Linked DNA regions of Homo sapiens. The protein of the gene in region 3 purifies or fractionates together with the protein of the main gene of each other region. This does not show direct contact. Each region holds a gene or a part of one and is shown on either strand. Other genes may lie near its edges.

Evidence for each region.
Region 1: the proteins of ST6GAL1 (region 3) and ERGIC2 purify together in Homo sapiens (affinity purification with mass spectrometry; 2 studies listed by BioGRID and IntAct, with this or other methods). This does not show direct contact.
Region 2: the proteins of ST6GAL1 (region 3) and SAAL1 purify together in Homo sapiens (affinity purification with mass spectrometry; 2 studies listed by BioGRID and IntAct, with this or other methods). This does not show direct contact.

What each region holds. Positions count from the first base shown.
Region 1 is NC_000012.12:29,379,313-29,383,065, reverse strand, and holds the start of ERGIC2 (endoplasmic reticulum-Golgi intermediate compartment protein 2), read left to right. Parts: upstream 1-1,893; 5' UTR 1,894-1,951; exon of another isoform or gene 1,952-2,597; intron 2,598-3,753. UniProt on the Homo sapiens protein: Possible role in transport between endoplasmic reticulum and Golgi.
Region 2 is NC_000011.10:18,085,443-18,089,195, reverse strand, and holds part of SAAL1 (protein SAAL1), read left to right. Parts: intron 1-1,970; coding exon 1,971-2,053; intron 2,054-2,141; coding exon 2,142-2,330; intron 2,331-3,753. UniProt on the Homo sapiens protein: Plays a role in promoting the proliferation of synovial fibroblasts in response to pro-inflammatory stimuli.
Region 3 is NC_000003.12:187,073,475-187,077,227, forward strand, and holds part of ST6GAL1 (beta-galactoside alpha-2,6-sialyltransferase 1), read left to right. Parts: intron 1-684; coding exon 685-859; intron 860-2,087; coding exon 2,088-2,329; 3' UTR 2,330-3,753. UniProt on the Homo sapiens protein: Transfers sialic acid from CMP-sialic acid to galactose-containing acceptor substrates. In B lymphocytes, generates neuraminidase-sensitive lymphocyte cell-surface differentiation antigens, such as CDw75, HB-6 and CD76.

The DNA.
Region 1 (3,753 bases), on a different chromosome or scaffold from region 3:
TATTAATCTCAGTCTAAAACCTATCTTATGCGGGTAATACATAATGGACTTTTTAAAGCAAATTGTTTTTCAGACATAACGCCACTGATAACACAAGATTAAGTATCTATCTCTTTTTAAAGATGATCCTGATAGGTACATAGATGTCCTACAGGGTCTAGGGCAAACCTTTGACCTCGCTTGCAGAGATGTCGTGCTACTGTTAGATCAAACCCTGGCCTTTAATGAAAAGAATGCGGCTTTAGCTGCAGCCCGAGAGTTTCAATCTTCAGGGGAAATTAAGTTCCCTCTTCACTGGGTAGATTAGAAAATGGTGAGTTGTTTTCTAAATAAGAAGGATCAAATTAGTCAGTTTTGCTACACTGGGAAATCCAACTCTCATGGGATAGTTGTTACCCTGAAAGTAGGTTATCCAGGAGATGAGGGATCAGATGTAACTAAGTGAACAACAGCCAGCCTCCATCCAAGCAAGAGCCCATATTCACAAAGAAGGAAGAGTTGCTGATGCCTTTACGGCAAAGATTAAAAAAAGGCATTTTAGATGTATATTAATTTACTTAATCCTCGTAACAACTCTGAGATATTATCATGCCCATTTTACAGATGAGCAAATGGAGACACAAAGAGATGAAATAATGTGGTCAAGGTTACATGCTAGTAAGTTGCTGATCTGGAATTCTAACCCAGGAAGTCCTGTCTCCAGTGTCTATGATTTCACCCACTACACTATACTTCTTAAGCATGTCAAGAAAGTGAGAACTTTAAATTGATTTAATTAGACTAACTCTGAAAGTCTGAAAATAAAATTGATTCATTGGAAACTTTTCATCAGTCCTTATTTTGGGGGATATTCAATTTAGTGAAATTTAGTATTTCAGTAAAGGTTAATTCACTACATAAAACAATGTGATTTTTTTCCTTTGAGGCACAGTTTAGTATTGTGATCAAGATTTCCCTGACTCTCCCAGCGGTCTGAATTTGGGTAAATCACTTCACTACCCCTTGACTCAAATTCCGTATTTATAAAACAGGTAAATACTGGTATTATCTTCTAAGAGTGTTGTGAGGATACGCAGATTTTTTAAAAAAGCAGTTAAAGCCTTTAAACAGTAATTATAAGCAGTTGTCATAATTATGCCGTTGTTAGACTTCTAGGTCAATGAATCAGAAAATTTAAATCTCAATGTTTGATTATAAAATCTGGTAACAGATGGGTGAAAAGGAACCTGGAATGGGTTTACTCTCCAGGAGTTCACATTTAACTTTTCTTTCCGAAGTTCCGTCTATTAACTCCTGTTCTATGAAGTGGTAGAAAAAGATGAGGTATTAATTTTCTTTCTTAACAAATATTTGAAGGCATAGTTGGTGTTGGCGAAGGGAGATGAGGAAGACATATGTGCTTTCTTATGATATTAAAACCTGGAAGACAATAAAAACGCTGATCAAATAATAAAAAGCGTTACCTATGGCGGAAAAGGAAGCTCAAATGTTCTTGTCAGGGGAAAACGACACAAAAACTGAAAGAGGGAAACAAAACAATTGCACAGGTGATATGCATTAGGGTTGTTAGGGATAATTTCTGCGCCCAAGGCTCTTATTAGTAATGAAATACGGTGTGAGGAGCTGAGATTCGTTCTGCAGTCTCAGTGTTAGTCGGAAAGTAACCCCTCCCTTCCCATAGAAACAGAACCGGACTGGCGGCGCGATTACACCTAAAACAAGTTGCAACCTCATTTCCCTGTAGGCACGCCTCTTTTATCTTAACCACGCCTCTTCATTCCCTAAGCACGTCGTAAGCAAAGGGAATATCGCGAGATCTGTACATTGTCTCTTTTCTGACGTTTTCAGCTGTGATAGTCGCTTTTGTTCTCGCGATATTTCCGGGTACGCGGGAGCCCCGGCGACCCGGGCTTCTGTGAAACATGGCGGTAGGCTGGGACCATAACACAAGGTAAAATACTGAAACACCGCTGGGTGCTGTTCCCTCGGTTGTTCCAGGGCTGTTTAGGGCGTAAATGCAATTGAGGGAACTGGGAGCCTGTCATGGGCTTGGCTTCCTGTCTTCATTGATCTCTAGAGAGCCGGTCGGACGGAGAAGCCGCTCCACCTCCCACGGGGGCGTTACTGGCAGGACCCTAGGCAACGATGCTACTGGGAGCTTCCCTTTGCCAGGTCCGGGTGCTTGTGTGCTATCCTGCAACTCGAAGGAGTTCAGGTGCTTCCTCGATCGCACCTGATTCTGACCCTTTGCTTGTCACAGTGCCCGGTTCCCAGGTGGTTTCTCCAGTCCGCAGGCGAGTAGGATCCCAATCGGTCGAGTCCCAGTCCTCCCGGATGTCAGACTCCCTACCCCCATTCAGACAAATGCCACATTCGTGGCAGCACGTTGCCCTCTGTCTCTTTAAGAGTCTTGGCCTTGCCCGGAAGGAGTTTCGCACAGTGCTTCGGAAAATGAGAAGGGGGCGGGGGAGGGCGAGATGCTGAGAGACAGGTTCGACTGTCACTACTTTTCCTCGGCGCAGGAAACCTTCCGAAGGCAACGTGTCAACTCGTGGTGGAGAATAGCCTTGTTTATCTGTAGTATATAGAGTTGACAGGTCATTGTTTGAGAAAACACGTTTAAATAACTTTTATATTTTAGTGCCCCCGAGACTTAAAGACAAAGTGGCATAATAGCTGTTAAAATGTTGCCAGACTGGTTTTCAGAAGCAATGAAAGTTACAGTTAAAAACAGGATTTATTCATTTGAAGTTGTAATTCAGTATTTCAGTTAATTGCCTAGCCTGATACATTGGACTCCAGTATACAGCAATTATAAAGAATGAGCCTGGCTTGTTCACTGAAAAAAGACATGGTTATTTACCTAATTTGTTTGTTGATATCTTTAAGTTGTTGTAATTATGCCAGTTCTAGTGGAAAACATGAGGAAAAAAATTCTGATTTTTTGGGAGGGTGGGGGTTGGCGGTGCAGGGATGGATAGAGAGAGGAGGATTTTTTTTTTTTTTTTAAATGATGGTGAACTTTAGTATACAGTTGCGTGTTATAATGGCTTCCTGGTACAAATCATAAAAATATATCAAGTTTGAAAGATCTCTCAAAGGAAATCAGGCCTAGTCTGGAACAACGAGAGTTAGGGAAACAACAACAACCACCCACACATTTTCTTTCTTTGGGGATTGATGATTTAAGTGAAAGAAATGGCTATTTTTTTTTTCTTTACCAGAAGTTACTTTTAGGCAGTCAGTGCCTGCTAAAAATCCTATTTAATAGTTTCCCAATATTTATTGTAATTCTGCCTCTTAATGTCATAGTGGTCAAATTATTTAACCTCTCTGTGCCTTAGTTCCTTCATCGGCCAAATGAAATAATGATACTTAACTCATAGGAAGGTTGTGAGGATTGAATGTGTTGAAACATACAAAGCATTTAGAACAATACCTGGCACACAGTAAACACTCAATGCATGTTAGCTCTTGTTATTTTTTATTTTCATTTTCTAACATCTGTAGTTACAAATGTTGCCTTGTTACTTAGTCAAAATGTAGACTGAAGAAGATATTGTTTAAAATAATATCTTTCTGAACTCCAGATTGATTAAACACTCTGATTGGTGTGGTTAATGTGTCCTTAAACTCCCATTATCCAGTTGCTTGTTTTCTTAAATTATTATCCTCTTTTAATGACTAAAGCATAAGTTCTTCCTTTCTATTGCTCTATATAGTCACGTTGTAGTGTGGCTCAGATCTACCCTC
Region 2 (3,753 bases), on a different chromosome or scaffold from region 3:
TACTATTTGTGATGCAACCTGTATAGTGGTTACAAAGTTCCTGTTATATTATCATTTAGCTATAGGCTGTTACTCAACATTAACTGTGGTTTCTGTCTTACCATATTTTATGTAATTTAAATCAAAGAGAAAACATTTTCTTGTGCTTTATTTTACATTGAACATTTAACAACTTCATTAACGTTGCACATCATTTGCTTTTTTTTGCTCCTTGTGTTTATATGCCAGTCTTCAATAAGTGACCGATGTTGGGACTCTGATGTCTTGCCAAGAGTGATTACTAAGCCTTACAGGTCATTAAAACTGTTTATTGCTAATCACTAGAAAATTAATTTTTAAATTGATCTGCTTAGTGTTTTTCTTAGTGCATTCTTAGTGCTGAGTAAGCCACATCAAAACCTATTAATTTTGTGTCCTTTATCCAAGTGAGGGATAAATTCATCATCTTTCCCTAAACCTGCTTCATCAGTATTCTCAATCTCAGTAAATGATGTAATCATTATCCTATTTGGATAATGTAGAAGAAATGGAGAAGCCAATTACTGAATCTTTCCTGCCCCAGTATTTTCCCATTGCAGTCAACTCCCAACCCTTATTCCTGACATTTTCTGGGATTCCATCCATGCCAATCAAGCCATTATTGTTTCTCATCTGGAGAACTGCCACATTCTTTTACTTGAATTCCCTGCCTCTATGCTTGCTCTTCCCAAGCCTAGACTTTAAAGCTGTTTTTGCAAAGTACGCACTCATTTCACTCTCATGCTTCGGTCTTTTCAGTTGCCTTCCTTAGGATAAGGTCCAGAAAAACAAACAAACAAACACAGCTTGGGTACTACATACATCACCTGGGTGATGGGACCATCCATATTCCCAAACCTCAGCATCATGCATGTAACAACCCCCAACATGTACCTTCTGAATCCAAAATATAAATAAATAAAATAGGGGAAAAAAGAATGAAATAAATGAAAAATTCTCAAAAAAATAAAGTACAGCTTATGGACCCAGTAGCGCTATCCTTATTCCTTGTACTCTGCGTTTCAGTCATGTGAAGTTTGCGTCACTTCTTCAACTGAACCAGGCTGTCTTGTCTCCAGGCCCTTGCACAGTATGTTTCCTCCACCTCAGACACTTCTTTGCCCCTTCATGTTTCTGTGTAAACATCATTTTTCTTAAGATACCTTCCCTGACCCTGCAAACTAAGTCTCCTTGCTTTGTGAAGTTCCTAGCCCATAGTGCTACATTAGTACCACTTTATTGTAATTACCCCACTTGGAATCTTCTTTCCTTTTAGAGTATAAAGTTTATGAAGGTAGGGATAACATCTTATACATCTGTTTTCTCAACTCCTAACATAGTGCCTGAAATTTGTAAGTACTTAAATAAACATTTGCCAAACCATTGTTTTAATTGTTCACTGTCTTTTCACTTGTTTGGTTGAAGAACTAAGATTTTGAGTTTCCAAACTATTTAGATTTTTGAGAATCCAAACGGTTGATCATAAGAATTAGACTTACATGGTTTTAGTGTTCTCAGCTAGGGAGCTAGGTTAATCCTGAGACATTTTCAGAACATCATTATTGTTGATGCGTGATGCAGCGGACCTTAACGTTCATACTATAAAAATCGCAGTCTTTTTTTGTTCTGATTATTCAAGCAAACCAAAATGATAAAGTATCAACTGGTAGGTTTCTGCGTTGTTGCTTTTATGAGATAGAGCCAAAAAGTTTTTTTACTTCTTGTCCTGTGTGTGTTGATTATATTATATAATATTTGTTTATTTTTTGCTGTTTCCCCTATTAGAATATAAAAGCTCTAACGAACACAGAGACTTCGTTCCTTTCCTTGTTTTATCCTCAGCACCTTGAACAGTGGCTGGCAGAGTAATAAATATTTATTGAATGGAGGAATGATTGGAATCCCCTGGACAGTAAAGTTGTTGATTCAGTGCTTTTACTTTTCCTATTTAGTTCTGAAAATCCAGAATGGCTTGATGTTTACATGCACATTTTACAACTGCTTACTACAGTGGATGATGGAATTCAAGCAATTGGTAAGGTGGTTTATCGGGATGCACTACAGTTACTCATTTAATTGTTTGCTGATTTTAAAGTACTGCTTTATTTGTCCTCTTTATTAAGTACATTGTCCTGACACTGGAAAAGACATTTGGAATTTACTTTTTGACCTGGTCTGCCATGAATTCTGCCAGTCTGATGATCCACCCATCATTCTTCAAGAACAGAAAACAGTGCTAGCCTCTGTTTTTTCAGTGTTGTCTGCCATCTATGCCTCACAGACTGAGCAAGAGTATCTAAAGATAGAAAAAGGCAAGTACAGTTTCCCAGGCTCATACTGTTTTTCATTTCATTTATTTCTCCCTTTTAAAAAATGCTTTCATTTCCCTAATTATAAAAACATTACATGCTAAACTTCAAAAATTTATTTTATTATCATATTTATTTATTTTATTTTTTATTGATTTTTATTTTTTGGAAACAGAGTCTTGCTGTGTTGCACAGGCTGGAGTGCAGTGGTACAATCTTGGCTCAGTGTAACCTCTGCCTCCTGGGTTCAAGTGATTCTCGTGCCTCAGCCTCCCAAGTACCTGGGATTACAGGCGCACACCACTATGCCCAGCTAATTTTTGTATTTTTTCAGTAGAGACGGGTTTTTACCGTGTTGGCCAGGCTGGGCTCGAACTCCCGACCTCAGGTGATCCACCCACCTCGGCCTCCCAAAGTGCTGGGATTACAGGCGTGAGCCACCCCACCTGGCCTGTTTACTTATTTTAAAGCCAGAGTCTTATTTTGTTGCCCAGGCTGTAGTGCAGTGGCAGGATCATAGCTCACTGCAACCTTGAATTCCTGGGCTCAGGTGATTGTCTCACCTCAGCCTCCTGAGTAGCTGGGACTACAGGCACATGACGCCACACCTGGCTAGTTTTTAAATATTTATAGAGACAGGGTCTCACAATCTTGCCCAGGCTTGTCACAAACTCCTGGGCTCAAATGACCTTCCTGCCTTGCCTTCCAGAGTGCTGGGATTACAGGCATGAGCCACTGCACCCTGCCGAAAAATTTATAAAAAATATCAAGGAAACATGATGTTTGTAATCTTACCATCCCACACATGCACATATATTTAATTCTGCTTTTTAGCCAACATTTCATTTAGAAATATAAAATGAATATTTTCCTATATAAACACATATTCTTTCACAGAATTGTTTTTATGACCACAATTAAATTCATGATTCATTTAGAATTTATTCTCGTGTCACATGTGAAGTGTGGCTTTAATTTTTTTTCCCCCTTTGATAACTTTGGTTCTAGTGGTATCAGTTTTTTCCCAGAGGGCTACCCAGTTATCTCAACATCATTTAGTGAATAATCCAGCTTACCCACACTGATTTGAAATTTCATCATTATTTTTAAAATTCCCCTATATATTCTGTTCAGTTCCATTGCTGTATTCATATATTAGTAGCCATAGTGTTTTTAAATATTAAGGTTTTATGTTTTAATACCTAATAAGGCAAATTCCTCTTCATTCTAAGTTTTCAGAATGTTTTTAACTATTTTTATCACTAACTTTGAGTTCCAAAAACAAAAAATTTCTGACATTTTTGTTGACATCGTGTTAACTTGATAGGATATGTTATGCCCTTTTATTTGTTCAGGTCTTTTTTGTGTCCCTCAGTAATGGTTTCTTCATATGGATCTTGGATATTTCTTATTAGTTTCATTCCTA
Region 3 (3,753 bases):
GATCTGCAACAGCAGCTCTTTCCGGGGAAGGAGACATGAGTGGCAGGCCTGCTGGATTCTAACCTCTCTGGAATAGTCCTCTCACTGTTAATGCATGTCAGTTGACCTCTCCCTGATGCAGGCTGCTGTGGCCTCAGGAGCATGGCCTGAGAAGGGCAGAGAGCACTAATCTTGGGACACTTAACTCTTAAGTTGGATCTACCAATGCCTGACAGGCTCTGGCGACCCCTGGCACCCTCACTATCTGACTTTCAACAGTTTTGCACTGATCTCACTTAGAACTCAAATTTGCCTAGGTCAGGACAAGGACTCTGAACCCATAGATGTCCTATGCTCTAGTTTTCTCCCCTTTAAAAATGAGAGATGGGGCCAGATGGTACGTGGGGCTCTTTTCAGCTCTGAGAGTGTTCCCGGACTCTGATCCTGAAGCCTGAAGCTGATCTTGGGTCGCCAAGCTCAACTCTCCCCCAAAGCACAGGCTATAGGCTAGGCCCCACCCTGCTATCCAGTGAAACCTGCGGCTGGAAGAGAAACCTGTAGTCTGCTGCAAGAAAAGGGCTGTGCCTCAGGAGCAACACTTGTTGATCCTTTCCCCTCCCCATGTCCACTGATGAAGATGACTCCTGGGGGGAGCAGCTCACTGGCCCATTTCTCCCTTGAGAGGACCACTTCTTTCTTTTTCAGTGGTACCAGAATCCGGATTATAATTTCTTTAACAACTACAAGACTTATCGTAAGCTGCACCCCAATCAGCCCTTTTACATCCTCAAGCCCCAGATGCCTTGGGAGCTATGGGACATTCTTCAAGAAATCTCCCCAGAAGAGATTCAGCCAAACCCCCCATCCTCTGGGATGCTTGGTGAGTTCATGTCGGGGAAAAGACCTTGCATGTTTGTTTCTAGAAGAGATGAGCTTTTTTTCTGGGGTCTCATTCAGTCATTCGTTTGTTCATTTGTTCACTAAACAATTGCTAGGATTCTGCTCTGCTTGTAGACCATGCCAAGTTCTATCTAAAATACAGAGGGAAATCAGATAGAATCCTTTTTCCTGAGGGCATCTATTGGGGAGGTCAATCAGATGTCTGAGGCAATATTCAATTTGTGCCAGAAGGGAGAGACAACCTGGTGTCATAGGAGAGAGGACACCTTCTAGCTGGACAGTTGCTTATAGCCTCATGGAGGAAGTAGTGTTCGGTAGGCTTTGGAGAGGGGAGAATTTGGCAGAGGAAGATGGAGGGAAGGGAAGCTATGAACAGGGGAGGGAGGTGGGAAAATGAGGAGCGGGGCTGCACCTCAGACGAGGGGAGCAAGGCACTTTTCTCAGGTGTACAATTTAAGGGCGTACCCCTTAAAAACTCAGTCATCAAGATAAATAATATTTCACTACAGTATCTTCAGAAAACACAATTAATGTAAAAATTATGATGAGTGAAATATCAAGTATTTAAATAAAGATAGGATCAGTAACAGTGCTGTGCAGAGTTTATTGGAACAATGCTGGCCAGGGGCCCCCTTCTTGGATTTTCTCTACATCTCATCATTCAGACTGTGGAGTGCTCCTGTTCCAGCTGTCCCTTTGCCCAGCTAAGGGAAGAAAAGTCTTCCCTCCCCAACACTGTTTCATGCAAATGCTATAAGGAAAAATCTGCTCCCAAATAGCACCATCCAAGAGGTTCTGCAGGATGTCACAGTGCTAGAAAGTGCTAACTACACATGATGCCACTGTCTCCTCAATCAGCTCAGTAATCTTGTCCTCTTTCTCCAAATAAATTATTCCATGGATACATTCATTGGCTGATTGATGGAGTCATTTAATCTACTAGCATTTAGGGAGGATCTATTATTCACCAGGCCCTGGCCTAGGTGCTGGGGATTCAAAGGTGTATAACCCTCACACAGCCCTGCATCCTAAGGAACACTGCTGGGCTTGGCTTGCTGAAACTTAGATTGGGAATCACAGTCATAAATAGAAACTCCAGAGGGAAAGCTCTCCAAATTTGGGGTCATGAGCTGCTGAACCCACTGGGCAGAGCTCTGGGGTGCTGGGGTGGGTTGTCAGGCATGACTCACCTCTGCTCCCCTCTCCAGGTATCATCATCATGATGACGCTGTGTGACCAGGTGGATATTTATGAGTTCCTCCCATCCAAGCGCAAGACTGACGTGTGCTACTACTACCAGAAGTTCTTCGATAGTGCCTGCACGATGGGTGCCTACCACCCGCTGCTCTATGAGAAGAATTTGGTGAAGCATCTCAACCAGGGCACAGATGAGGACATCTACCTGCTTGGAAAAGCCACACTGCCTGGCTTCCGGACCATTCACTGCTAAGCACAGGCTCCTCACTCTTCTCCATCAGGCATTAAATGAATGGTCTCTTGGCCACCCCAGCCTGGGAAGAACATTTTCCTGAACAATTCCAGCCTGCTCCTTTTACTCTAGGGGCCTCTGTCAGCAAGACCATGGGGACTTCAAGAGCCTGTGGTCAGGAAATCAGGTCCAGCCTTCCCTGTAGCCAGACAGTTTATGAGCCCAGAGCCTCCTGCCACACACATGCACACATATCTAGCATTCTTTCCAGACAGCATCCTCCCCGCCTTCCACCTTGGTAGATGCAAGGTCTATCTCTCCCATCAGGGCTGCCAAAGCTGGGCTTTGTTTTTCCCAGCAGAATGATGCCATTCTCACAAACCAATGCTCTATATTGCTTGAAGTCTGCATCTAAATATTGATTTCACGTTTTAAAGAAATTCTCTTAAATTACAATTGTGCCCAATGCAGGGTGGCTCTGGGGGGCAAGTAGGTGGTACAGGGGATTGGAAACATGCTCCGCGCCTCCAGAGAAAAGTTGCTCCCGAGGTCCATGCCCCTGGAACGTGTTCCTATCACTCTGGCTGGTTGGGCTGGTCCTTAGACTGGGTGCTTATGATTAAAGGGTCTTGGTTAGCCCACTTTCCCTCTCCATGTGGAGATGGAAGGTAGAGAAGGATACAGTGTCTATCCTCAAGTTGCTACGGTTCAGTGAGAGAGGCAGACATCTGAACAGGCAGGTAGGATTCAGTGTGCTCAGTGCACTGGGGATTTGGAGAGAGATGGGCTTGCTCTCTCTGTGCACCCAGGAGGGCCACGCACTTAAAACTGTGTTTGTGGATCAGAGAAGGCTTTATAGCACAGGGGGCATTCAGATGAGTCTTAGAGGAAGAGAAGAAACATGGCAAGCAGATTACATCTGAGCCGTTTGAATTGTGTTTTTCTTTCTTCCCATGTTTATTTTCTAAGATCTACCTGAACTTAGAGACTCAAGATATTTTTTTAGGAAACCTCCTACCCATGTCTGAGGTAGCAAGTGCAGCCTCACGACAGATACCAGGCAATCCAGAGCCACAAAACGTGATTCCTCCAGGCTCTGCCTGGCCTGACCCTGTCCTGTCAGCTGGGTTTACATACCAGTCCCATTCTTCCTTTTCAATACCTACCCCCAAATCTTCTCCTAACCACCATCTGTTTTTTTTTTTTAAAGCATTTTTTGCTTTAAAAGCATCCTGACCCCAATTTCTTTGAGCTCACGGGCCTTTTGCTGAAGGTCTCTCAGGGTGTAGTGGTGTGGCTCTCTGGACTTAACGTCACTCTCAGAGGTCAGAACCTTGGAGATCAGAACTGATTCTCACCAGGTGTGAGAGGTGTGGTAGCAGATTGCAATGCTCTGCACCTCTTCCTTGCAAGTGAGCAACTTCAGGCTCTCTGGGCAGAGGCTG